Homo sapiens: one gene and its partners. The protein of the gene in region 3 purifies or fractionates together with the protein of the main gene of each other region. This does not show direct contact. Each region holds a gene or a part of one and is shown on either strand. Other genes may lie near its edges.

Evidence for each region.
Region 1: the proteins of WDFY1 (region 3) and KCTD21 purify together in Homo sapiens (affinity purification with mass spectrometry; 2 studies listed by BioGRID and IntAct, with this or other methods). This does not show direct contact.
Region 2: the proteins of WDFY1 (region 3) and CCNB2 purify together in Homo sapiens (affinity purification with mass spectrometry; 2 studies listed by BioGRID and IntAct, with this or other methods). This does not show direct contact.
Region 4: the proteins of WDFY1 (region 3) and HMMR purify together in Homo sapiens (affinity purification with mass spectrometry; 2 studies listed by BioGRID and IntAct, with this or other methods). This does not show direct contact.

Annotation. Positions count from the first base shown.
Region 1 is NC_000011.10:78,171,612-78,178,636, forward strand, and holds part of KCTD21 (BTB/POZ domain-containing protein KCTD21), read right to left. Parts: intron 6,375-7,025; exon of another isoform or gene 5,520-6,374; coding exon of another isoform or gene 5,441-5,519; intron 2,973-5,440; coding exon of another isoform or gene 2,944-2,972; coding exon 2,161-2,943; 3' UTR 1-2,160. UniProt on the Homo sapiens protein: Probable substrate-specific adapter of a BCR (BTB-CUL3-RBX1) E3 ubiquitin-protein ligase complex mediating the ubiquitination and subsequent proteasomal degradation of target proteins. Promotes the ubiquitination of HDAC1.
Region 2 is NC_000015.10:59,100,709-59,108,160, reverse strand, and holds the start of CCNB2 (G2/mitotic-specific cyclin-B2), read right to left. Parts: upstream 3,016-7,452; 5' UTR 2,893-3,015; coding exon 2,869-2,892; intron 840-2,868; coding exon 711-839; intron 605-710; coding exon 491-604; intron 1-490. UniProt on the Homo sapiens protein: Essential for the control of the cell cycle at the G2/M (mitosis) transition.
Region 3 is NC_000002.12:223,879,311-223,886,335, forward strand, and holds part of WDFY1 (WD repeat and FYVE domain-containing protein 1), read right to left. Parts: intron 5,440-7,025; coding exon 5,338-5,439; intron 2,763-5,337; coding exon 2,632-2,762; intron 923-2,631; coding exon 814-922; intron 1-813. UniProt on the Homo sapiens protein: Positively regulates TLR3- and TLR4-mediated signaling pathways by bridging the interaction between TLR3 or TLR4 and TICAM1.
Region 4 is NC_000005.10:163,484,626-163,491,650, reverse strand, and holds part of HMMR (hyaluronan mediated motility receptor), read right to left. Parts: intron 2,401-7,025; exon of another isoform or gene 2,268-2,400; intron 1,262-2,267; coding exon 1,099-1,261; intron 540-1,098; coding exon 487-539; 3' UTR 1-486. UniProt on the Homo sapiens protein: Receptor for hyaluronic acid (HA). Involved in cell motility. When hyaluronan binds to HMMR, the phosphorylation of a number of proteins, including PTK2/FAK1 occurs.

The DNA of each region.
Region 1 (7,025 bases), on a different chromosome or scaffold from region 3:
TACCCTTGGCCTGGGACAGCTGTCTTTTTTTGGGATGGAGTCTCTCTGCAATGGCACACTCTCAGCTCACTGCAACCTCTGCTATCTGGGTTCAAGCGATTCTACTGCCTCAGCCTCCCAAATAGCTGGGGTTATAGGCGCCTGTCACCACACCCAGCTAATTTTTGTATTTTTAGCAGAGACGACGTTTCACCATGTTGGCCAGGCTGGTCTTGAACTCCTGACCTCAAGTGATCTTCCCGCCTCGGCCTCCCAGAGTGTTGGGATTACAGGCATGAGCCACTGTGCCTGGCAGAAAAGCTGTCAGAGAGACTCCTGGGTCCCACCGTAGGGGGAAAAGGGCCTTTACTGCTCAAGGGAACTGGCGCTGCCCATGGCCCAGTGTACAAGCTCCCTACTCACAGGGCCTATCTATGGGAAGCCCCTTTCTGGGCCCACCTCCCATGGGTGCCTGTGTCACCAGGCTTCCTTGGCTTTGAGGACCCCTGCCCAGTGGGGGAGGACCCTGGGGACTCTCAAGGCCAAACTCACTTTAGGGATGAATCATGACGTGCAGTTTGGAGGCCTGCATGGCTCATCACCCGGTGGGAAGCAGTGCTTGGGTTGCTTGCCCTGGATGGCACCCTACAGAGACCCAGGGGTGGGACACAGGACTGCAGGGGAAGGCCGCCTTCCTGAGGGCAGGGTCTTAGGGGCCGCACATTTACTCTAAGGGCACTGTTACGGTTCATACCACTCCTGGGCTCCTTGCTGCACAGCACCCTTGGAGACCGTCTCTTTCCTCTGGATCTCCTCAGGGGCCGTGAATCTTCCTCTTCCAGCAGAAAATGGTCGAAAGGTATATGGAGCCACAGATGGTGGGGAAGGTGGGTGAAGTGGGGGTCACAAACGAGGTGAAGCTACAACAAAAGGGGACTGACTTACAGGGGATAGAAAAGAGCTAACTTTGATTCTGAAGACAGATCCCAGAGGGGAATCTGAATTCTGAGTAATGATGTTTTCAGAAAAATGTCTGGTCTCTCAAGGTGACTATTTTGAAAGCAAAGATATATAACTGGGTGAATGGGAAGGTCTGCAACCAAGATCCAGCAAGTGGCAGGACAGATTTTGGCTCAATATAGGGAAGAACTGTCTAACAGTCAGCACTGTCCAACCACAGCAGGAGCTGCCTTGGGGATGGCGCGCTTCCTATCAGCCAAGGTATGCAAGCAGGCCAAGGTGATCACTTGCAGGTACCCAGGGAGAGGCGCTCATCTTCAGATGTGCTGGGGTGTTCTAGGGGTGGGGGAGGACTAAGCAATCATCGAATTATTTCCAACCCTGAGAATCCGTAATAGATTTGTTTAAAATGACCTGTTTCAATGATACCTCAAATTTTTGGGAAAACAATGACAAAAGTCAGGTAACAGGCTGGATTTGGAAGTGATTTCATTACACTGGCTACAGATACTTGCACATTTTTGCAAAGATAGCAGACCCTTTCTAAAGCCAGGAATCCCTTGATTCAGCCCTATCAAGAGGGACATTCCTACCTTCTGAACTCTGCCTGGACACTCATTCCTCTAGACCCTGCCACACCTCATCTCTGACCCCCAAGAGGGGACACTAACAGAGCTCTGAGAATGCACAGCATTCCAAGCCAGCCAAACATGGTCACCCCTGGGCAAACATCCACGATCATGGATGCACCCTGGGGAGGGAGGAGCAGGTGTGACAGGAACCGCTGGGGACTTTATGTCCTGGTTAACTGGAGGTAGCCTCTTGTTCTCATCCCATCCTCTCCACCAGGGCCTTCTTACAGATGGATAAATGCGGCACTGGCTAGCGGTACAGAGAGATGGAGCCCAGGAGAAAACTGCTGCTCTTTTGTCCTGGCTGGAAAATCCTCCTATGGCCTCCTTTAGTACACATCAGCTGACTCTTCACTTGTCATAATAAACCGCCTGTCTGCAGCTCAAAATGGCAAGAAAAAAGGTGGTTCTGTTCAGAGGACACTGGATTCCAAAAGGTGGACTTCATCATGGGGGGAATCAAGTCCTGCTACACAATTAATACAGATTAGTATAGTCCCCTGCCTCGCACCACTGGCGAGATGCCCTCCAAGACCTGGCTGACATGAGCTTCCTGGGACTCCCCATCTCCAGTGTTGTTGGGGTCCTTTTACCTGTACCGTATTAATCGAATAATCTTATTGTTCATAAAATCCAGAGCATGTGGGTGAGAAGAATCGATGCAGAAGCCATCGCTCAGAGCGATTTTCAGTACCTCTTCCACGAAGACCTGGAAGCTGTTGATCTGCTTGTTGGCGGGCACCACCCAGAGCCTCTTGAGGTTCTGCTTGGTGTACTCCTCCTCTGGCAGGCCCTCCACATTGGCCACCCAGTCCAGAGTCAGGTGGTTGGGGTCCTGCAAGTGGCTGGTGATGGAGGAGAGATTGCCATTGGAGCAGTAGAAGAGCTTAGAGCCAAGGAGCTTGAGGAAGAGGCAGGAGGTGCTGAAGATGTTGGCGTTGAAGACCTCCATGCTGGAAGAGGAGAGGCTGTAGATCTGGGGTGCCTCGCGCACAGTGAAGTGGACCGTCTGCACACGCTGGTTCAGTGTGATGTTGAGCATGGCATTCTTCTCGGCCTTGGAGAGCTCCACTTCCTTCTCCTGCAGGGCCTCAATCAGGGGCTGCACCTGGTAGAAGTCGGCCTCCCTGCGGAGCAGCCCCATCTCCTGGAAGTCCTCAGGCAGGTCAAGGTGGGAGGTCCGCAGGAAGTTGAGGATATAGCGGAACACTTTGCCGTCACGGTCAATGAAGCAGTTGCCCTGGCTGTCCCTCTTGGTGGGCATCTTCCCGCTGAACATGGCGCCTAGCATGGAGTCAGGGAAGCTGGTCAGGGTCGCCAGTGAGGTTGTATAGAGCTTCCCCCCGACGTTCAGCGTGATGGGGTCGGACATGGCAGGAGACTGGGTTGCTGGAAGTAGTCCTGGAGAGGGTGAGAAGTGAGAAATGACTATAACCAAACCTTATCAGAGAACTCACAGTCCTTAACTCCTTATTGTACATCAAGCCTATGCCCTTGGGATCGAAATGAATTAATACCTGATGAATGGGTGATAATTGCTAACACTGTGCAAAGTACATTAGCTTCACTAGGGAGAGGGAAAGGAGAAAGGGAAAAGGAAAGGAAAAAGGAAACAGGGAAAGAAAGGGAAGGACCCCTAAAGCCTGGGTCCCCCGCGCCCCCCTCTGCTGCCGACATTCTATTTTAATTGGTCTGGAATACTGCCCCAGCCCTGGTATTTTGAAAGAGTTCCCTTAGTGATTCTAAATGTTCAGTTAGAATAGAGAACCACTGGTCTAAAGAAAGAAAGGAAAACGTGCCTGGACTGAAAGCTATGCTACGTGTTTATACATATATTTGCTTACATAATAGTTGTATCAGCCAGGTGCGGTGGCTCACACCTGTAATCCCAGCACTTAGGGAGGCCGAGGCGGGCAGATCACCTGAGATCAGGAGTTCAAGATCAGACTGGCCAACATGGTGAAACCCCATCTCTACTAAAAATACAAAAATTAGCTGGGCATGGTGGTGGGTGCCTGTAATCCCAGCTGTTCAGGAGGCTGGGGCAGGAGAATCATTTGAACTCAGGAGGTGGAGGTTGCAGTGAGCCGGGACTGAACAACTGCACTCCAGCCTGGACAACAAGAGTGAAACTCTGTCTCAAAAAAAAAAAAAAAAAAAAGGTTGTATCATCTTTTGACACAGACAATATAATCATCCATTCCTGTTGTGCAGATGAGGAAAACTGTGCCAGGATTCATTCCTCAAGCTCAGAAAGGTGAAGTGCCTTGCCAGGATTCAAACTCAGGTCCTTTTATATGAAAGAAAAATGTGTAAATGCTTACTAGCCAAAGATCGGTTCTAAGTACTCAACAAATGGTTTGAGATTTATGACTCCAGGCTCAGTGCTCCTCCTTCTGTACCAGTGACACTGCTGAATTTAATTATTATTCTCTCTCAAAGATTTGACAATGAATGGCCATGATTAGTGTCATTTCCATCTATCTTCAAGGCCCACAGTGGGTCACTCAGCTGTCCGGACTGCAAATGACAATCCTGTTTTTTTTAAATTTTTTTAAATTTTATTATTATTAAAGTTTTAGGGTACATGTGCACAATGTGCAGGTTAGTTACATATGTATACATGCGCCATGCTGGTGTGCTGCACCCATTAACTCGTCATTTAGCATTAGGTATATCTCCTAATGCTATCCCTCTCCCCTCCCCCTACCCCACAACAGTCCCCAGAGTGTGATGTTCCCCTTCCTGTGTCCATGTGTTCTCATTGTTCAATTCCCACCTATGAGTGAGAACATGCGGTGTTTGGTTTTTTGTCCTTGCAGTAGTCTTTACTGAGAATGATTATTTCCAATTTCATCCATGTCCCTACAAAGGACATGAACTCATCATTTTTTATGGCTGCATAGTATTCCATGGTGTATATGTGCCACATTTTCTTAATCCAGTCTATCATTGTTGGACATTTGGGTTGGTTCCAAGTCTTTGCTACTGTGAATAGTGCCGCAATAAACATACGTGTGCATGTGAATGACAATCCTTTCTAGACTTTCACTGCTCCCATGCTGACTTGCCTTGCCATGAAGATGCTCTTGGCTCCTGGTGGCCTGTCCTTTGCTGTCATAACACCCCAAGCTTCTCTGAAACTGGCTGCAAGGTCAGTGCAAATGCAGGACTCTGTCAGAGCACTCTCCTGAAGGCACCCTATCCACTCCTTAACAAAGCCCCCCTAATCTCTCAGCTGTCAGCATCTATGGCTGGCAAGTCTCCTTCACCACATGTTCTAGAAAACAGGAGATCTCAGCTCCAGCTTCCAACACTATACTTTCCCCAGAGCCAACCTGTGGACCAGATTCAGCAATCCTTCCCTGACATGGCAGGTAGGGATGCCAAGAGGAACTGGCCCCAGTATTACCCCCAGAAGAGCCTGTGCTGGTAGAGGAGATGAGAGAGTAAAGGCACAGTGACAAGACAGGTAGAAGATGTGGGAGATGGTCTGGAATGAACCTTGGCACATCAAAAACTATCTGGCTGGCAGACACAGTGGCTCATGCCTGTAATTCCAGCACTTTGGGAGGCCGAGGTGGGCAGATCGTTTGAGCTCAGGAGTTCAAGGCCAGCCTGGCCAACATGACGAAATCCTGTCTCTACAACAACAACAACAACAACAACAACAACAACAACAAAGCAGGGTGTGGTGGCGAGCACCTGTAGTCCCAACTACTTGGGAGGCTGAGGTGGGAGGATCGCTTGAGTCTGGGAGGTTGAGGCTGCAGTGAGCCGTGATTACGCCACAGAACTCCAGCCTGGCAGACAGAGGGAGATCCGGTCTCAAAAAACAAACAAAAACCCAACCTTTCAAGCATGCTTACCGTCCAGATGGAGAAACAGAGGTCTGAGGAGACACCTCCCCAAAGTCACCCAGCAGGGGTGGCGAGAACTTCTCAACATTTCTGCCTCCTGAAGAGGCTGACTGCACTGAGGCCTCCTTTCTCCAGAGGATGGGGGCCATGCCAGTGTGAGAGATATTCAGCTGCCATGCTCGACTCTGTGGCAGGGGCAGGGGTATGTCCCCTCATGATTCCTCCCCAGTCTAATGGGGCACTTTGATATTGCAGAAAGGCATTCCCCATCTGGAGTGTCTGAGGAGAAATGAGTCCATGTGAAATACGAAATCGTCAGTAGAAGCCTGGAGCAGATGGGCTGCGAGACGGTGGGGAGGTCCCACAGAGGTGTGGGCGAGCTGCCGCTGGGGGCATGGCTGCTGGTGTGGAGATGGCTGTGAGGCAGCAACTGGGGAGGGTGCTGTGACTCAGGGCTGAATCTGGCCAATTCTCTCTCCAGAGGGCCCAGGCAGGAGGTGGACCCAGGAGTGGGTCCCCTTTACTCAGTCCAGAATCTTCTTCCCTGTTGCCCTCTTTGTAGGACTCTAGTCTACTCCAACTGTTTTCTTCTGGATAGAAATGTGCATGTTCTAGTTTCAGTCTCTCTTTCTTCTTGAAAACAAACACTCCCTCCCAACATTGGGTTTCAGGCCTAGGATCTATAAAGTGGCTTACCTTCACGGCAGGAAAAGAAGCGGGTGTCAGAGAGGACTTGGACAGTTCCATGGGTCACAGACCCTTATCTCTTCCATGCATTACTGCTGAAGTGCTCAGAGCATTACAGGCGGGGGAGGTCAGGAGCCACAGGGCATTCCCTGGGACCCCTGGGTAGGTGCCCAAACTCTTATTTCTCTGCTTGCAAAAGCAGCAGAGCACCTGCTTTCCTGCGCCCCCGATGACGTCATGGCTCCCGGTCATTTGTCTGGGGAGAGCAGCACAGTTGCACAGGCAGTCAGGGCAGAGGCTGGCTAGCAGGCAGGTCTCCTGCTCCGAGTCTAGGGTGCTCTCTGTGGTGATCTCCCCTTACCTATCCAGTCACAGAGCTCAGTCCTCTAAGCCCTTCTTTTCTTTTTTTTTTTTTGAGATGGAGTCTCGCTCTGTCGCCAGGCTAGAGTGCAGTGACGCAATCTCAGCTCACTGCAACCTCTGCCTCCCAGATTCAAGCGACACTCCTGCCTCAGCCTCCCGGGTAGCTGCAATTACAGGTGCACGCCACCAGGCCCGGCTAATTTATTTTTGTATTTTTAGTAGAGATGGGATTTCACCATGTTGGCCAGGATGGTCTCGATCTCTTGACTTTGTGATCTGCCCGCCTCGGCCTCCCAAAGTGCTGGGATTACAGGCGTGAGCCACCGTGCCTGGTCTAAGCCCCTATTTTCTAGCCACAGGGCCACAGTGTCCATCATCACAAATCCACGGCCCTGCTACAAAAGGCAAAATGACATGACACGAGGGGAGTTTCATGAGTCGGCGGAGGTTTGCAGTCAGGTAGTAATGAACTAACACCACTGAGCCTCAGTCCCCTATGTGTTCCCAGATGCCTCCTGGCCACCTCCACTTGGATATTCTGCAA
Region 2 (7,452 bases), on a different chromosome or scaffold from region 3:
TTGTTCTCCACAAACGTGCCCTTTCCTGTCAGCTATCATCTTCTCTCTACCCCTAAAAATCTCACTCATTCCATGAATTTTCTGAACCATTCTGTCCTTTATTTGGGTATTAAGGTAATCAACTTTATTATTCAGGGTCGTAATATTTATTTTTTTTTTTCAGAGACAAGGTCTTGCTCCGCTGTCCAGGCTAGAGTGCAGTGGCACCATTATAGCACATTGCAGCCTTGAATTCCTGGCCTCAGGCGATCCTCCTGCCTCAGCCTCTCAAAGTGCTGAGATTACAGGCATAAGCCACCATGCCCAGCTTCAAGGTCATAATGTTATTAAGTTAAAAGGTGTATATACTCATTTCCTACACTATTGCTTCAAAGCAGAGCTCCAGCTATGAATGTTCGTTAGAAGGTACAGCAATGATAAAGGCACCCTTGTAGTCTGGCTAAAAACAGGCTACCTCATTAAATACGTTTGTAAATTCAGAACTTCCTACCTTTGGAGCCAACTTTTCCATCTGTACTGGTTTGACAGAAGCAGTAGGTTTCAGTTGTTTGTTGACATTTGTTGTTTTGGTGGGTTGAACTGGAACTTTGGTGTTCTGAGCTTTCTATAAGGAAAAAGAAACATGAATAGCGCAAGACAGCCAGCGTTGTGGGACTCAGCACTATACAGAATCGGCCTCTGTATTCACATTCAGTCTTCATCATTGTTACCTTAGCTACTTGTGCTGCTCTGGTTGTAACTCTATTTCCAATTTCTTCTAAAACAGTTCGCCTAATAGTCACATGACTCTTAACTTTAGAATTAACTCCTGTGTCAATATTCTCCAAATCACTGGACACCTGAAAAAAAAAAAAAAAAGTAATGAAACCTTGAAAGAATTTGAAATACTTTGCTAATGTTAGATACTCAAATTTAGAATTGCTTTGGGAAAGGACAATACGTCAAGATCTATTTGCAAGATGGAAAAGGTACATTTCAGGAAGTCTAAAAATGCTATTTGTGATTAATAACATCACTCTAAATTAGGCAAATCACCCATCTACTTTATCCGTAATAAAGATCCTCCCACTAACCTTGCAAAGCTATTCTGAGTATTCAAGTGGGCCTGTAAGAGAACTTCAAAGCTTATTAGTATTTAATGATTATTTCTCATATAGTACCCATATCACTTGTTAGAGATCCCTGCAAGTTAAAGGCATATATTTAAAAACCTTCCTTTACAGAGCTTGGTAAAAAGTAAATTAAGATGAAAAATAATAAAGCTATAATATTAATAGTTAATAATAGGTCTGGTTGTTTAAAAACCAGATGTTTAAAACCTAAACTAGCTTTGATTCTTATGCCATTTCACAAATAAGAAATGCTCCTGTATGCATGATCTTTTAGAACTACAGCTTTTTAAAATGAGGTTGCCATAGAATGGATTTTCTCTTATATTAAGGACATTTAGAATGGAAGTAGTTTTCTTGAGTAATATAGTTTTAGCTCCCAAACTCAGGGAAGGTTGGAATTGTATGAAATAAAAATTGTCAGTTGACCTTAACCTGCTTTAGACATAATGTGCTTGGAAATAAAACTTGCTAGGAAAAGCAACTCATACCAAAAAAAGTTTATTATAGAAGTGATAAACATTTCATTAAAAAAGAAAAAAGCAAAAAACCAGCATGTCCTATCCCTGAGAGTTCAGGGTCCCGACTCTAATAAAACTCCCAACAAGGGGTTTGAGTGGATCTACCAGGCAGAGAGAGGGGCCAGGGAAACTCAAGCCTTCCCTGAACAGAAAGGTTTTGACTATTAAATAACGTTATAGAATACATTATTATAAAAAATTACTTGTCAGTTGGACTTAGATCCACAAAAGGATATTAATTAAATGCTAAATGTATTCAATCTATTAGGATTCTCAAAAGTCACACTTCAATTTCTTCCAGCAGCAACTGCCAATCTGAAAAAGTGTTTGAAAATGTAATGCTTATGGGTAGAAGCCTGGTAATGTGACTCAATTTAAATTCATCTGGATAGGAAAATTGGCAGCTTTTATCTAACCTTATAGCCAAGATGATGGAACTCAGGTGTGTCAGGGCCCTCTAGCTTTCGGCAAAGGAAAAAAGTAGGTCCCGGTACAATTCAAGCCCACAGGAAAAATACCCAAAACACCATAACACTTTGATCTCTGCAAGGATGAAATAAATGAATTTGGACCCTTTTCTCTCAGTCTGCCACATTGGTCCAAATTATATTCAAAAACCTCTGTTACATTTGAGTAAAGAAATTAATTTTTTAAGGGGACAAACCCATTTATTAGTGAACGTAGCATGGAAGACTTAGCGTGCCGAAATAAATGGGAAACTCATACAAAAAGAAATGTGAACAATCTGAAAAACAGCCTGGCAGTTGCCTGATGAAACACGCCGTACACTTTACTGCCTACAGAACCCTTCCAGTCCTCCTCCCAGCCGCCATCACAGGTCCCTTAGTTGGCAAGGAGTTGTAAGAAAGGGGGAGGGAAATCCCAGGAACGTGGAAGTAGATAACTCTCTAGCAATGAAGAGCACTCGGGGATCGCTCGCTGAGTACTAGGCCTAGTGCTCTGGGGGCTCACTTGACAGGCGCCATCTCGGAAGCGCTTTCCTACACTTCTCCCACCCCGGGGCAGGGAGGGGTTAGGGGAGGGCGGAATCCAGACGGGGAAAGGCGGGCCGGAGAGGACCGGCCGCAGGGCCAGGGACGCGGGCGAAGCAGTGAGCTCCGGAGAAGAGAAAAGCAGCCCCGGTTGGGACGGAGAAGCTCGGAGCAGATGAGAGAAGCGACAGGGGAGCTGTGGGGCCGACGGACTCGCCTCTGAGAGCGGTCCCCGGGCACACTCACCGTCGGGCGTCGGAGCAGCGCCATGAGGGACGGGGAAGGCAAGAGTGCCAGCCCGGCCCAGGGAGGGACGCGGACTGAAAAGGGAGGACACTAGCGTACGAGGCGCCGTTAGGACTGCTCTCCGAGCCCGCAGCGCTGGGGATCTTCGACGCTGTAGCCTTGTTCCAGGATTCAAATACCGCGTCGCTTGCGCCCCATTGGGCGGCCCTGCGCACGGGTCGCTGTTCTCATTGGCCAACACAAGATGCACTCTCGCACTCTCATTGGCTGAATTTTCTTAGACACGTTTGATTGTCACAACAGCCGGTTGGGGTGTTTTTTCTGCCTACAGTCTTTTAAAAAAAAAAAAACCCCAGTCTCTGAGACAAACAAAAAGGAACTGTCTCATTGGGAAAGCAGACGTAGGACGCCTCTGAATTTTGACAAGGCCTCATCTACGAATTTCTCTCGACGTTTGTAGTGGGTGGGCGGAAGTTGGTTGGCCTTTATTCCTCTTCTGGTGTGTTGGGGTTTAAGTTGTGTTGGCCTGGGTGCAGGAACCGGCCCCTCCGGGTTGCTCAGGGATGCAGTGTGTTAGGTGGTTGAGATGCAAAAGTGTGCTTAAAAAAAGAGAGAATAATGGCGTTTACTCAAAAACCCAAATTCTCAAGTAAGGCAAAAAAAAAAAAAAAAAGATAAAAGAGATTTGTGTGACTGGTGATTCATGTAAGTTCTCCATTGTATTCCCAACACCTAGTACATCGTTTGTCGTATATGGTTGGTGCTCAATAAATGTTCGTCTAATAATCAGCCCAAGCAAAGAATTCATGTCTAAGACCCCAAAAGCAAATGCAACAAAAACAAAAATACATAAATGGGACCTAATTAAACTAAAAAGCTTCTGCACATCAAAAGAAATAATAGACAACCACAGATTAAGAGAAAATATTTGCAAACTATGCATCGGAAAAAGGCCTAGTGTCCAGAATCTAGAAGGAACTCAAATCAGCAAGAAAGAAAATAATGCCATCAAAAAATGGGCAAAGGACATGAATAGATATTTCTCAAAAGATATTCAAATGGCCAACAAATACATGAAAAAATGCTCAACATCACTGATCATCGAAGAAATGCAAGTTAATACCACAAGGAGATACCACCTTACTCCTGCAAGAATGGCCATCATTAAAAAGTCAGAAAAAAAGGCCGGGCGCAGTGGCTCACACCTGTAATCCCAGCACTTTGGGAGGCCTGTTGGGCAGATCATTTGAGCCCAGGTGTTCAAGACCAGCCTGGGCAACATGGCAAAACCCCGTCTCTACAAAAATACAAATATTAGCCGGGTGTAGTGGTGAGCACCTGTAGTCCCAGGTACTGGGAGGGGGGCGGGGGGCGGGGGGCGGGGGGCCGTGTGTTGGGGCAGGAGGATCCCTTGATCCCATGAGTCTGAGGCTGCAGTGAGCCATGATTGTGCCACAGTACTCCAGCCTGGGCAACACATTGAAACCCTGTCTAAAAAAGAAAAAAAACCTCAAAAAACAATAGTCAAAAAACAGTGTAGGCGTGGATGTGGGGAAAAGGGAATGCTTAAACACTGCTGGTAGGAATGTACAACTTCTATGGAAAAAAGTATGGTGATTCCTTAAAGAACAAAAAGTAGTTCTACCATTTGGTCCAGCAATTCCACTACTGGGTATCTACCCAAAGGAAAAGAAGTCATTATATGAAGAAGACACTTGCACATGTATGTTTACAGCAGCACAATTCACAATTGCCAACCTAAGTGCCCATCGACCGAGTGGGTACAGAAAATGTGGTATATATACACCATGGAATACTACTCAGCAATAAAAAGGAACAAAATAATGTCTTTTGCAGCAACCTGGATGGAGCTAGAGGCCATTATTCTAAGTGAAGTAACTCAGGAGTGGAAAACCAAAAACCGTATGTTTTCACTTGTAAGTGGGAGCTAAGCTGTGAATATACAAAGGCAAACACAGTGATATAATGGAATTTAGAGACTCAGAAGAGGGAGGGTGGAAGGGGAGACAGGGATAGAAACCTACATATTAGATAAAATATACACTACCTAGGTGATGGGCACACTAAAATCTCAGAATTCACCACTATATAATTCACCCACATCACAGAAAGCCACTTATATCCCAAAAGCTACTGAAATAAAATTTAAGTGTATTAATTAAAAAATATTCATCTAATAAATGATCTTATGATGTATGTAAGATTTAAGAATGAAAAACAAGGTGTGACACCAGTCTTGAGCAGAAGAGTGGGAGGATTAGCACAGTCCAAAGAGAACAGTATTAATGTTGCCCTTGTAAAAAGAAGCAGGTGAAGATCAAGACAGAAAAAGAAACAGGAAAGGAAAAAGTGAGATTAATGGGAAAAGAGAAGGAAAAGAGGAAAGGAGTGATCTAACACCCATGATATCAGGTTCCATTAAGAATCTGAAGGCCTGGCATGGTGGCTCACACCTGTAATCCCAGCACTTTGGGATGCTGAGGCAGGTGGATCACTTGAGGTCAGGAGTTCAAGATCAGCCTAGCCAACATGGTAAAAACCAGTCTCTATTAAAAATACAAAAATTAGCTGGGCGTGGTGGTGCAGGCCTCTAATCCCAGCTACTCGGTAGGCTGAGGCAGGAGAATCGCTTGAACCTGGAAGACAGAGGTTGCAGTGAGCCGAGTTCGCACCACTGCATTCCAGCCTGGGCAACAGAGTGAGACTCTGTCTCAAAAATAAATAAATAAAAATTTGACCGAGCTTTCCCATCATTCTTAAATGGTTCTGTTACTTGGGGACGAATAATCAGTGTGGTTGGACGAGACTTATGTAAAGTTAAATTCCTAAATTGCCTCAATCCCTATTGGTTGGAGGGCATCTGACAGTTCTGAACTTGTTTCCTCTTAGGTGAAACAGGAATAATTGCAGCTACTATGTGAAAAGATGTTAGCCTATCCATAATCATCCCATAACTAAAAACTAGGTATCCTATGGAAAAGTCTTGGAAAAGAAAAATAGATGTTTTAGTGCACTGAAGTTGTAAAATATTTTTGCTTTATGTTGATATGTTATCAAAAGATACAACCATAAAAGTGACAATGCTTGCTTACTCATAGGGCTTTTTTATGAACGGTAAAGGTGCTTTCTTATTTATTTATTTTTGTCGGGGTCTTGCTCTGTTGCTCAGGCTGGAGTGCAGTGGTGCAGTCACGGCTTACTGCAGCCTCGAACTCCTGGTCTCACACCATTCTCCTGCCTCAGCCTCATGAGTAGCTGGGACTACAAGTATATGCCACCACTCCCAGCTAATTTTTAAAAATTTTTGTAGAGACAGGGTCTCACTGTGTTGCCTAGGCTGGGCATAGTGCTTTTATTAACCGACTTGACATTGTCAAAATTGAGTAATTGAATCTGTATTAACACGTTTTATTTTATTTTTTATTTTTTGAGAAGGCGTCTTGCTCTGTTGCCCAGGCTGGAGTGCAATGGTGCAATCATGGCTCACTGAAGCCTTGACCAGCCAGGTTCAAGTGATTCTCCCACCTCAGCCTCCTGAGGATCTAGGACCACAGGAGTGAGCCACCTCACCGAGCTAATTTTTTTATTTGTAGAGAGGAGGTCTTGCTATGTTGCCAGGTTGGTCTCAAACTCCTGAGCTCAAGAGATCCTCCGGCTTTGGCCTCCCAAAGTGCTGAGATTACAGGTGTTAAAAATGAAGATAATATTTCTTATTTTGTACTTCTCACTGTAACTAACCTAAAACCTTACACACAAACTTCTTGTTTTGAGACAGGGTCTCCCTCTGTCACCCAGGCTGGAATGCAGCAGTGTGATCACAGCTCACTGCAGCCTCAATCCCCCGGGCTCAAGTGATCCTCCTACCTCAGCCACCCGAGTAGCTGGGACTACTCGGCTGGCTGATTTTTAAATGGTTTGTACAGATGGGGGTCTCACTATGTTGCCTAGGCTGATCCCGAACTCCTGGGCTCAAGTGATCCTCCTGCCTCAGCCTCCCAAAGTGCTGGAATGAACCACCATGCCCAGCCCATCCATAAATTTCTTTTTTTCAAATATCACCCTAGGAGGCCTGGCATGGTGGCTCATGCCTGTAATCCCAGCACCTTGGGAGGCCAAGGCGGGTGGATCACCAGGTCAGGAGATGGAGACCATCCTGGCTAACACAGTGAAACCCCTTCTCTACTAAAAATACAAAAAAAAAAAAAAAAAAATTAGCCAGGCATGGTGGCGTGTGCCCGTAGTCCCAGCTACTTGGGAGGCTGAGTGGCGGACGTTGCAGTGAGCCAAGATCACGCCACTGCACTTCAGCCTGGGTGACAGAGTGAGACTCTGTCTCAAAAAAATAATAATAATAATAAATCAATCACACTGGGAAACGGAAAGTTCTTTCACTGCTGATTCCTCTGAGAATATAAATCATTTTGCACATGCGCTTCTCTATATGCAAAGCTTTGGTTTGGGGGGAGAAGTAAATGCGTTCAGAAAGCTTGTGCTAGGTATTCTAACAAAACAATGGGGCTTGTTTTACCTCACTGTGGTGGATGAAAGAGTGCCCCCCTTTTT
Region 3 (7,025 bases):
TTTTTAGAAAAGCCCATCAGGAATATAGAATATCTCAGTTTCACCACTGAAGAGTGGTACTTAGGCCATGCATGGTGGATCATGCCTATAATCCCAGTACTTTGGGAGCCTGAGATGGGAGGATCGCTTGAGCCGAGGAGTTTGAGACCAGCCTGGGCAACATAGTAGGACCCAATCTCTATGAAAAATCCCCCCAAAATTAGCCAAGCCTGGTGGCAGGCACTTGTAGTTCTAGCTACTTTGGAAGGCTGAGGTGGGAAGATTGCTTGAGCCTGGAAGGTGAAGGCCGCAGTGAGTAGTGACTGTGCCACTGCACTCCAGCCTGGACAACAGAGCAAGACCCATCTCAAAAAAAAAAAAGAGTGGTACTAAGTATAAAACACTTCATTTCAATTTATGTGTTAGTGACCCAGGGATTTAATTGTTAAAATGTGTGGTTATTCCTTATACTGAGGACGCATTCTGCCCAGGATGAAAAGGAACATTGGCAAGCGTAGGAATGTCTTGAGATGGGTCAGGGGTGAGGACCCAGGCCAGCAAGGGAGAACCCAGAGGTCAACTCCACCCATAGGGATATACAGGGTGCCAGACTCACTCTGCCAGACAGACACTGCAGAGGGAGGTGCCACTGGGACTGACCACCAATGAATGCATGGAAACTCAGAGGCAAGCAATTTGTTACTCAAGGTTTTAAACTGGCAATCATTTGCTTATAAAGCTTGCCAGTCAGAAAGAGTGACTGTCTCCTGCACATTCACAGCATGGTAATAGGCAATCTCAACTGAGATGCTGACAGACAATTAGCCAGCTTACCTTTACAATGCGGTCGGTCCCACAGGTCACCATCAGTCCCCTGGCAATGTCCATGGACATGTGGGAAATGTTATGTTTTCCTTCATGAAAGGTCGCTAGAGAAGTCCGACTAACAAGAGAAAAGAGATCACTGAAAATTTACTTGACTGTACCTAGAGCTAGTGGGGTAAGCTTTTTTAGCAACATAAAATAAGCAAATATGGCCAGGTGCAGTGGCTCATGTCTGTACCCCCAGCACTTTGGGAGGCCGAGACGGGTGGATCACTTGAGGTCAGGGGTTCAAGACCAGCCTGGTCAACATGGTGAAACCCCGTCTCTACTAAAAATATAAAAATTAGCTCTGTGTGGTGGCACACGCCTGTAATCCCAGCTACTCGGGAGGCTGAGGCAGGAGAATCGCTTGAACCTGGGAGGTGGGGGCTGCAGTGAGCCGAGATTGTACCACTGCACTCCAGCCCAGGTGATCAACCAAGACTCAGTCTCAAAAAAAAAAAAAAAAAAAAAGTAAATGCTTATGATAATAGTGTTAAAATTTGCTCCTAAAATTGTGGCTATGGTTTTGAAAACTAACCTTATAATTTAATGATGACAGAAAGCATGTTAAATCACAAGATTGTTTTATAAAATTCCCAAAATAACTGATTTTTTTTTTTTACTGGAAAGGCTGATACATTCCTAGATATAAAAACAAGAATCTTCAATATAAAAGAAGAACTGCATTGAATAAAATCATACAGCATGGGCAAAACATCAGAGAGCTGCCGTTTTCCCTGAAACCTCTGCCATGCACAGGAGCAGTGCCTCTTACAGCACCCGCTTCAAAGCCCAGCTGCCCCAATCCCATCACTAGTTCATTTACCAACACCAGTCGTGATGCACTAGCTTTCCAATGTGGACCTCTGCCAACATTTGCCTCTGCTGCTTTAAAAGATGATTCAAAGGGAAGGAAAGAAAATAGTGGTTCTGTCCTAACGGATTTGCCTAAAAGTCAGGGCAGAGTGGGGTATCAAACAGATGTGTCTTACACACAAAGAGCAATTTAAGAATAGACTGCTAGGCCAGATTTCTGTGGAAGAAAGAACATTGGTCTCTAGAGTTTTCCCAGTAAATTTACATGCATGTGTGAACAAAGGTCTGGGCACTGGATACTTTTATAGAGAACCAGCTCAACCACTGCCATCCACAGGTGCATGGACTTATCCCTGCATAGCAGCCAGTGGGATGCAGAGGCTCAGGGTATCCACTCAGTTACTGGACCATGTAACTTAGCATTCCTCACTGTGTTCAGGAGAAAGCTGCCCAGTCAGAGGGGCAACTTAAGATGCATAGTCATGGTCTTAAGTCATAAAGCTAGGGCAGGTCCTCTCTTCAAAAATGGCTTAGGGGCCAGGCACGGTGGCTCGCGCCTGTAATCCTGGCACTTTGAGAGGCCAAGGTGGGTAGATCACTTGAGGTCAGGAGTTCGAGACCAGCCTGGCCAACATGGTGAAACTCCATCTCTACTAAAACTACAAAAATTAGCCAGGTGGTGGGGGGCGCCTGTAATCCCAGCTACTCGGGTGGCTGAGGCAGGAGAATCGCTTGAACCCGGGAGGCAGAGGTTGCAGTGGGCCGAGATCACGCCACTGCACTCCAGCATGGGTGACAGAGCAAGACTCTGTCTCAAAAAACAAACAACAAATAAAATGGCTTAGGAAATTCAGGAGAAACAAACACATGGCTAAACATATCCTATCACTTCTGAAGCTCTTCACATTTCAGAGAACCATTAGACAGATGTAATAAGAGGCAATGAGACAAAAATATGCAAACACTCACTCTTCATCTTTGATGGAGTCGTAACAAGAATCACAAACCCGGACTTGGAACTCGAAGCCCATGACTGGGTAACTTGAGCGCTTGCTGCTGCACTTCCCGCAGACAGCCTGCCCGCATTTCCTGCAGTGATGCTTCACAGGTGACCGGGAGGAGGAAAACAGGGTGTTAGCTTTCGCTTTTTGTTTTGTTTTGAGACAGAGTCTCACTCTGTCACCCAGGCTGGAGTGCAGTGGCGTGATCTCGGCTCACTGCAACCTCTGGCGCCCGGGTTCTACCAATTCTCCTGCCTCAGCCTCCCAAGTAGCTGGGATTACAGGTGCCTGTCACCACGCCTGACTAATTTTTGTATTTTTAGTAGAGATGGGATTTCACCATCTTGGTCAGGCTGGTCTCGAACTCCTGACCTCATGATCCACCTGCCTCAGCCTCCCAAAGTGCTGGGATTACAGGCGTGAGCCACTGCGCCTGGCCTAGCTTTTGCTTTAAAGCACATGGTTTCCCTCTAAAGTAGGGCAACAGGAGCGGGGAGGATATGCCTTGAATTGCAATCACCCCAATTCAATGTATCAATTAACACTCACAAGATAGACAATTCTGACACTAGTCAAGGATTTCCAAAAAACTTTGCTGTACTGGTCAAATGTTGCTTTTCATTCATTCATATTATCTGTCTACATGTTAACAAACAATATTATTAACAACAAATTTAGTTCATTTAGGAGCCTAATCACTGTAGATTTAGGGAAAGAAAAATTTATTCCTCCATCATAAAAAAGGCATTATTATTATTTTTTTTTTCAGAGACAGGGTCTCATTCTGTCACCTAGACTGGAATGCAAAGGTGCAATGGCATACAGCTCACTGCGGCCTTGACCTCCCAGACTCAAGCGATCCTCCCACCTCAGCCTTCCAAGTAGCTGGCACTACACGTGTCTGCCACCATGTCTGGCTAATTTTTTGATTTTTTTGCAGAGACAGGGTCTTGCTATGTTGTCCAGGCTGGTCTTGAACACCTAGGCTCAAGTGATCCTCCTGCCTCGGCCTCCCAAAGTGCTAGGATTACAGGTGTGAGCCACCATGCCCAGCCTAAAGGGTTTTAAAATAAGTTTTATTTATTTATTTTTATAGAGACGGGGTCTCATCATGTTGCTCAGGCTGGTTTCAAACTCCTGGGCTTAAGCCACCCTTCCACATTGGCCTCCCAAAATGCTGGGATTACAGGCATAAGCCATCATACCCGGTCTAAAATAAGTTTTAAATGCACTATGCTCTCATTAAGAAACTAATGCCCATAATCATGTATTTTGCTATTTTCTAAAATCTCTCAAACTGTGATTCTGGAAATAAGCCTCAAGAACATTACAAAATAGTCCAATTATTATTACTGATTTTGACATATTCTTTTACCGCCAAAAGTTTAGTGACCAGCACCTCTTCTCTCTTCTGTTAACTGTTAATAAATGGAAGTAAAATCCATTTCTCTGTGTTTCCTTTAGAAGTAGGGAATACTTCACCTATTAATTATACTGCACTAATTACCATCAGCCATGCATTGTGAGAACTTGGCTAATGACAGACAGAACTCAGGTGCTATTTCAGAGCTTTATAATGGTCTGAGCACTAATAATTCCCTTCTTGCCTGCCAGTCTCATATGAGACCTTACTGTGGAGTATCTCTGAGTAAAATTTTTTAGATTTTATTTATTAATTAATTTATTTTTTGAGATGGAGTCTCGCTCTGTCACTTAGGCTGGAGTGCAGTGGCGTGATCTTGGCTCACCGCAACCTCCGCTTCCTGGGTTCAAGTGATTCTCCTGCCTCAGCCTCCCGAGTAGCTGGGATTACAGGCGTCCGCCACCACACCCAGCTAATTTTTGTATTTTTAGGAGAGACAGGGTTTCGCCATGTTAGCCAGGCTGGTCTCAAACTCCTGACCTCGGGTGATCCACCTGCCTCGGCCTCCCAAAGTGCAGGGATTACAGGCCTGAGCCACCATGCAGGGCCAAAAAAGTTTATTAACACATACAAACTTTAGGCTAATCGCTCATAGAGATGCAACCAATAATAAAAGGAATAAAATCAGCATTCTTTTTTACTTACCTGCTTTTTTTTTTTTTTGTAGAACTTTAGTATTACAAGAATCCTTTAACAGCACCTTTAAAATCTACAGGCTATTTGGAACATATTTCTTTAATTAAAAAATTTAAAAAACAGTACTCAAAACATGCTTAATAAAAATATTCCAGGTATGCTTATAAGGGAACAATTTAAAATAATCTAAAACTCATAGGGTCAGGCATTCAAGTGAGGACTAAATTATTACTTTTTATCTGTTTGTGACAGCATAAGGTATATAACTGTATGACTTTATTCTAATTTTGTTCTTGGCTAGCATAAAACACTGACTTTAATAAGTAATAGTCTTAAACTGAAAGATCTTTTATCTGTTTAAAAATAGGCTCTCAGGATTTTCTACGCACCCCTGCCTTTCCAATACAGGACAAGCAATGGAAAAGTGAGGTAACAGTCTCACTGGCCCTGGGAAAGGTCTTCCTCATTGTTAGTCACACAATGATAAAGACATAGAAAATGTAGGAATTAATAGCATTTGCAAAAACAAAGTGTGTTTCAAAAAAACCCCAGATTAAGTATGCAAATAGTGAAATACACAATCAAGCCAGAGATGACTCGACAGTGGCTACTCACTTGTCTTAGCCCCAGCGTCTTGGTGTCCCACATCTGCTTTATGTTCCAGAAAAATGGCTGCTCACATTTCTGACAAGAATCACTTTCCAACCACTGAGGAGCCTGGGGGAGCAGAAAGTCAAAGCCACCATCAGTGTGTCTATATTTACTCCCATGTTTCAAAATTAATACAACAGTTCTAGACCTTGCCAAGGTTAGTATTTCTTTTCTTCTTTTTTTTTTTTTTTTGGTCTCCCAGGCTGGAGTGCAGTATGTGTGATCTTGGCTCACTGCAACCTCTGCCTCCTGGATTCAAGTGACTCTCCTGCCTCAGGCTCCCAAGTGGCTGGGACTACAGGCATGCACTACCACTCCAGGCTAATTTCTGTATTTTTAGTAGACATGGGGTTTTGCCATGTTGGCCAGGCTGGTCTCAAACTCCTGACCTCCCAAAGTGCTGGGATTATAAGCATGAGCAACCATGCCCGGCCAGTTAGCATTTCTTTTTAATTCCACGAAATATTCTAGCTAGTTGTCATATTCAATATTATGTTTAATTGTGTGTGGGGGGGGGTCTTTTTTGAGACAGGGTCTCACTCTGTCACTCAGGCTCGAGTGCAGTGTCGTGAACATGGCTCACTGCAAGCTTGATCTCTCAGGCTCAAATGATCCTCCTGCCTCAGCCTCCCGAATAGCTGGGACCACAGGTGAGTGTCACCATGCCCAGCTAATTTTTTATTTTTATTTTTTTGTAGAGACAGGATCTCACTATATTTCCCAGGCTTGTTTTGAACTCCTGGCTTCAAATAATCCTTCTGCCTCAGCCCCACAAAGCACTGGGATTACAGTCACGAGCCACTGCGCCCAGCCTTAACTGTGTGCCGAGTAATCATGGCAATTTTAGCCATGGTTACAGGGTGTTCAATTTGTAATCTATAGATAGGAGGGAGTAAATCAGTTTTTATTGTGAACCCTTAAGGGTTGTCTTTATGTATTTCTTTTTTATGCCAAAGATGTTTGAACTCTAAATCCAGTTGAGTAGAAACCCAGTGCATGCAGCAGAATCTGGTGACCTACCACTTGGAAAGGCTTGCGGGGTCACAGGTGACTAACAGAAGAGATCTGACAAAACCCCATCACCTAGTTGCTCTGGGTAGGGACTATGCCGGCAGATTTGCCCCCCTTCCCTTCCCAGCCACAGCAGCACGTCCCTCCCTCCTGGGGCCACACAGGCATCCTGCAGCTTCACTGAGCAGCAAGCTCTGGTACTGGAACTCTTGGTGCACGTTTCTTCTCCCCTCTAACCAATGAGTTACTTTTTGGTATTATTCATCTTGATCTAGCCACAGCCTGTCACACAGTAGGTTTTTAATGCATTTTTGTTGAAACAGAGGAAGCAGTCTCAAAATTAATTTGTTAAAAAACTTAGAAAATAGGCCAGGTGTGGTGGCTCACGCCTGTCATCTCAGCACTTTGGGAGGCCGAGGCAGATGGATCACCTGAGGTCAGGAGTTCAAGCCTGGCCAACACGGTGAAACCCCGTCTTTATTAAAAATACAAAAATTAGCCGGGTGTGGTGGCACACACCTGTAATCCCAGCTACTTGGGAGGCTGAGGCAGAAGAATCACTTGAACCCAGGAGGCGGAGGTTGCAGTGAGCCAAGATCATGCCATTGCACCCTAGTCTGGGCGACAAGAGCAAGACTCTG
Region 4 (7,025 bases), on a different chromosome or scaffold from region 3:
GTCCTTATTTCTTATTTGAACTGGACAAGTAGAAGGATAATAGGTAGGACCAAGTGAGCATTATCAGAATCAAAGTAGAGGCAATAACAAGCCAAGGTGTTTTAGCCTAGCTAAAGAAGCTCAGACTAGAAAAGACCTCCAGGATCAAGCTGAAGAATCTGGGGTTTAGACTCTTGAAACTAAGGTTTCAGAACAGGAGGATAATAATATGATACTGACTTTTAAGTTGATGAGATGCATTCTAAGCTGGAAAGCCAGCGAAAGGGTTCAGAATGAGGTGATAAAGGTGAGCATTAGGGAGGAGGTATTTGCAAGAAAAAATAAAATGTCAAAAGACACTTTGGTAAAAAATGTTCCTTTCACATATTTAAGGATTGGCAGTTAAAATTAAATACAACATTATAAAATACCCATGTCAAATATAATAACAGCAACATCAATAACAACAAGACGAATGAAATAATCTTCAACAGGTTTCTCAGATGTTTACTTCCATGATTCTTGACACTCCATAGGAGCTCGGTAACAGTTTGTATTGCCTAGAAGAATTATTGAAAAGAAGGATTAGTAATCTAGATTAAAACGAATTTATCCATCATTATAAACTAAAAACAGGCCTTGTATCTTCTTTAAGGCAGATGAAGCAATATATTCTGTAAGATAATTTTTAGATTTATCATTTCAACCAACTTTAATTTATCGTGAAAGACAAACATTCACAGTCAAGAAATAAGAAATTTACTTCTCTAAAACTACAAATCAGAAAATGATTAAGGACCTAAGAGACATTTAGGTTAAAATGCTAAGGGTATTATAGAGGGAGTAATTTGGGGTGTGTGGACAGGGACAAAATAGTCATGCAAAGCTTCAAGGAAGATTTGAGATTTGCCTTGAAGAACAGGCAGAATCCAGGTATACAGAAAAGAAAGCGTAGAAGGAGGAAGAAAACAGTCATTGTACACAACAATCTCAGTAAGAACTGCTTTTATCAGAAGGTGTCAACAAATTTTCACAGTTCATAAAATGGATGACTTGCTAAATGCTATAAAAGCAAATCCAAAGGAAGAGGACACTTTTATACATTTATTCATGTCTTACCTTCTTTTAATGGGGTCTTCAGGGCAAAATTTTCTTTACTTTCATGATGAAAAGCCTTTGAAGGATCAAAGTGTTTGATACCTAGAACTTTATTCAATTCCTCTTGAAGTTTTGTCTCACTTTGTTTTTTTTTAGCAAGCTGACAGCGGAGTTTTGATACTTCCTAGGTAAAAAGAAATAATAGGTAATAAACAATTATTAAAGAGTATGTCAGTGAAATGTGTTACCAATGTTGCGGGCAAATTCCAAAGTTGTTTATGTATTATCACACTCAACAGCAAAAATCACTACTAGACACAGGCTTTAAGACTGAATTACAAAATGACATGAAACAGCTGTGACAAAGGAGATACAGTCTTTTAAATCTCCTTGCCCCTCCTCAGCTACAAAGCTATTTTTCTGATAAAAGTTCAACTCAAAAGTAATTGCTGAGATGGACTTCTGGCATGACAGCATGAAAGTTCTGCTGACCTGCTCCCTAGTGAAACTAAAAGTTATAAAATATTAACCAGTTAAAGCCTCTGAAAATTGACCTAAGGGAAAAATAGCAAATGAAGAAACATCTATTCAAGAAAATCTGCAAAAATTTGGTGAAAAAGAGAGTCTGCAGTGTTTAAGCCAAAACTCCTTCCCCTCTTCCCACTCCCAGCTTAGCAAGGCAAAGTCCACGCCAGACGGCTACAGCCAAAAGCACAGGGCCCTCTTTTCCCCCAACTCCGAGTCAGAAGCTTCCCTCCCAGGAGGACCAGGACATCAGAGTTTCTCATTTTGTCCCCAGCTCCCTGTGGCTGCAGTTATATCCTGGACAAATGCAATTGTGAGGTGGGGGATCCCTTCCTCCAGTCAGCCCCATTCATGGAACAGGGGCTCACCTTGGGCACAGTGTGTTGAAAATGCTGGGCCCCGATGACTCTTTCTCTGGCTCATGAGGGGGATGGTTCTACACCAGGAGGTTACTCAAGAGGGCCTGAGGCTATTCCTCATCTCTTCCCCACAAGTCCACTGAAAACTCAGCTCCTAGGGCAGAGGATGTCACTCAGAGAGAAAACTGCCATTGTCCCCAATTTCAGCTCTAGTCCTGGCTCAGGGATATTGTCGGGGGAGGGGGAAAGGAGGGCGGAAAAGACAAGTAGGCCATAAAACAGGGAGCTCCTCATTTCTTTTCAAAGGAACTGACTTCACCTGCAACAGAGCTTGGAGAAGCTGAAGCCTAAGGGTGCTCTAAAGCAGGGGTCCCCAACCTCCGGGCTACAGACCAATACCCATCCAAGGCCTGTTAGGAACCCGGCTGCAGAGCAGGAGGTAAGTGGTGAGCCAGGAAGCATAAGCATTACCCCCTGAGCTCCCCCTCCTGGCAGATCAGCTGCGGCATTAGATTCTCACAGCAGTGTGAACCCTATTGTGAAATGCACATGTGAGGGATCTAGGCTGCATGCTCCTTATGAGAATCTAATGCCTCATGATCTGAGGTGGAACACTTTAATCCTGAAACCATCCACATAAACCCATCACAAGCTGGGTGATCCGGTCTGTGGAAAAACTGCCTTCCACAAAACTGGTCCCTGGTGCCAAAAAGGTTGGGGAACCATTAAAGAACAGTGGTGGTTATAGTGAGAGAGAAATGGGAGGAGATTTAAGATACAGGCTGAACAGTAGGCTAGTTAGTTTGCAGGAGAAAACTAGGGAATATGACAGCTGGGACGAGCCCTTCTGTAGTCAGAATAAATATCCAGCACTGCTCTCGTATGCAATCCCTACAAAGGAGCCAGAATTTGATTGGATTAGTTTATAGAGCAATTTATGCCCTAAGGCACTGTTGCAAATAATCAAGCAAGGAGCCAGCATCTACTGGAGTTTACAGTCACTATGTTCACGGAAAGAGAGGAAGGCAGCCCTACCAAAGCAAGTGTCATCCCAGGGTAATTGTGGGCACACCTAAAACTGTACCTCCCTGAACAGCAACATCAGAGGCACAATACTGTTGGGGTCTGGGGAGGTAGTGGGATATGTTTCCCTAAAATAATTGAGCCACTCATTAAGCAAACAAGCAAATAAAAAGCCCCCAAAAGGAGGGGGAGCTGTACCCAGAAATGCTACAATATATGATCTAAAAATTTACTTTCCAATGAAAAATTACAAGGCATGCCAATAAACAGAAAAGTATAACCTATACATTTGGACACAAGGAGAAAAAATGTCTGAGAGTAATCGGATGTTGGATTTTTCAGCCATTAAACAAGGGCTGAAAAACCACCTATTGAGTACTATCCTTACTGCCTGGCTGACGGGACCTGTCATACCCTAAACCTCAGTATCATGCAATGCACCCATGTAACAAATCTGCATATGTACCCCCACATCTAAAATAAAAGATGAAATTATAAAAAAGAAAAGTTCTTGGCCAGGTGCAGTGGCTCAAGCCTATAATCCCAGCATTTTGAGGCCAAAGCTGGTAGATTCCTTGAGCCCAGGAGCTCCAGACCAGCCTGGGCAACATGGCAAAACTCTGTCTCTACAAAAAGTAGAAAAATTAGCCGGATGTGGTGGCGCACGCCTGTAGTCCCAGCTACTTGGGAGGCTGAGGTGGGAGGATCACCTGAGCCCAGGGAGGTTGAGGCTGCAGTGAGCCGTGATTGCATCACTGCACTCTAGCCTGGTGACAGAGTGAGATCCTGTCTCTAAAAAAACCCAAAAACCAAACAAAAAAATAAAGTTCTTTCTCCACTAAAAATTTAAAAAAAGAAAGAAACTTAAAAAAAAAAGACTCAAATTACTAGAATCAGAAATAAAGAGAAGCCATTACTACTGACCTTACAGAAATAAAAAAAAGATTATAAAGGAATACTATGAACAATTATATACCAACAAATTAGGCACATTTATAGAAAGACATAAACTACTCAAGAAGAAAACCGAATCAAGAAGAAAGAGATAATCTGAATAAGCCTATATCAAGTAAAGATATTGAATTAGTAACCAAAAAATATTCACAAGAAAAACCAAGGTCCAGATGGCTTCACCAATAAATTCTACCACACATTCAATGAAGAATTAATACCAATTATTCAAAAACCATTCCACATAGAAAAGAGGGAACATTTCTCACTCATTTTGTGATGTCACCATTACCCTGATACCAAAATGAGACAGACATTAAAAAAACAAAAACAAAGCAAAGAAAACCTACAGACCAGTATATCTTAGGAATATGGCTGAAAAAAACCCCTCAGCAACATATAAAAATAATTATATGCCATAACCAAGTGAGATTTATCTCAGAAGGTTAGATTAATATCTAAAAATCAATTAATAAAATACATCATATCAACAGAATAAAAAAATTACATGATAATCTCAATAGAAATAGAAGAAGCACTTGATAGAATTCATTACCCTTTCATATAAAAATGCTCAACAAACTAGGAAACAGAAGGGAACTTCCTCAACTTGATAAAGAGCATCTATGACAAATCGACATCTTTGTTTTTTTTAGATTGTTTCGCTGTTGTCTCCCAGGCTCAATGGCTCCATCTCGGTTCACTGCAACCTCTGTCTTCTGGGTTCAAGCCATTCTCCTACCCAAGTAGCTGGGATTACAGGCGCCCGCCGCCACACCTAGCTAACTTTTGTATTTTTAGTAGAGACGAGGTTTCACCATGTTGGCCAGGCTGGTCTCAAACTCCTGACCTCAGGTGATCCACCTGCCTTGGCCTCCCAGAGTGCTGGGATTATAGGCGTAAGCCACCTCGGCTGGCCAACAAATCAACATCTAATAATGTCACGCTATATACATCATACAGGTAACATCATATATCATGGAGAAAGACTGAATGCTTTCCCCCTAGATCAGGAACAAAGCAAGGCTGTCCATCCATTTTCATTACTTCTAAATTCAACACTGTATTATACTACAGGTTTTAGCCAGAGATATTAGACAAGAAAAAGAAATAAAAGGCATCCAGATTGGAAAATAAGTAACACTATCTCTATTTGCAAAAGACATGATCTATAAGAACATCCTAAGGAATCCACTAAAAAACTATTAGAACTAAAATGAGTTTAGCAAGGGTGCAGGATACAAGATAAATATATTAAAATCAATTGTATTTCTATACACTGGCAATCAACAATCCAAAAATGAAATTAACAATTTCATTTACAAAACATCAAAAAGAATAAAATAGTAATAAATTTAACAAGAGAAGTGGAAAACTTATACTCTGAAAACTATAAAACATTGTTGAAAGAAATTAAATGAGATCTAAATAATTGGAAAAATATCCCATATTCATGTATTAGAAGACTTAACCTAGTGAAGATAATAATATGTCCCAAACTGATCTACAGATTCAATGCAATTCCCATCAGAATCCCAGCTGGTTTCTTTGTAGAAAAACTGATTCCAAAATTAATATAGAATTGCAAGAGGTCCAGAATAGACAAAACCATATTGAAAAATACAAAGAGGACTCACGCTTCCTGATTTCAAAACTTACTACAAAACAACAGTAATCAAGACAGTGTGGTGGCACAAGGATAGATGTATAGATCAATGGAAGACAGTTGAGAGTCTAGAAATAAATCCATACATGTACAGTCTAAATGATTTTTTAATTGGATGCTAACTCCATTAACTGGAGGCAAGAATATTCTCTTTAAAAAATAGTGTGGGGACTATTGCATGTCCACATGCTAAAGAATGAAGCTGGACCCTTACCTCACACCACATACAAAAATTAACTCAAAATCAATCAATAATCTAAATGTAAGAGCTAAAACTATAAATCTCTTAGAAGAAAACACAGGGGTAAATCTTCCTGACCTTGAATTTGGCAGAGGAGATAGATACCAAGGAACGAACAAACAAAAAAATAGACACACTGGACGTCATAAAAGTTTTTTGGGTCAAAGGACATCATCAAGAAAGTGAAAAGACAATGCACAGAATGGGAGAAGATATTCGCAAATAATACATAAGAGACTTGTGTCCAGAATTGATGAAGAATTCTCACAATAATAAAAAGACTAATAATCCAATTTAAAAATGAGCAGAGTATAAACAGACATTTCTTTCATGAAGATATACAAATGGCCAGTAAGCACATGAAAAGATGACCAACATCATTACCAATTAAGAAAATGCAAGTTAAGTTAATGAGATACCACTTCATACCCACTACAATGGCTAGGATAAAGAAGTCAGATAATAACAAATGTTGGTAAGAATGTGGAGAAATTGGAACCCTCGTACACCGCCTGTAGAATATAGATTGGTATGAGCCACTTTTGAATACAGCCTGACCTTTCTATGGCCATACCACCCTGAACGCACCCGATCTCATCTGAATGTAGTCTGATACTTCCTGAAATGATTAAATGTAGAGTTATCAAATGATCTGGCAATTTCCCTCCTATTATTTCCCAGGGAAATAATATGTCCCAGGAAAAAACAAATGTCCATACAAAAACTTGTACATGAATGTTTATGGTAGCATTATTCATAATAGCCAAAAATGTGCAAACAAGTGTTTATCAACTGACAAACGAATAAATAAAATGTGGTATACCCACATAATGAATTATTAGGCTATAAAAAAAATAAAGTACTCTCCATGCTACAACACAGGTGAATCTTGAAAATATTATGCTAATTGACTGAAAGAAGCCAGTAACAAAAGGCCACATATTATTTGAATCCATGAATATGCCAGGTCCACAATAGGGAAATCAACAGAGACAGAAAGTAGATTAGTGGTTTCTTAGGGCTGAAGGGTGGGGTGGGGTGAGGAGATAGGAGAGTGTTAGGAAAAGGATAACAAGGTTTCATTTTGAGGTGATGAAAATGTCCTAAAATTGACTATGGTGATGGTTGCACAAATCTGTGAGTATACTAAAAAACACTGAATTGTCCACTTTCAATGGGTGGA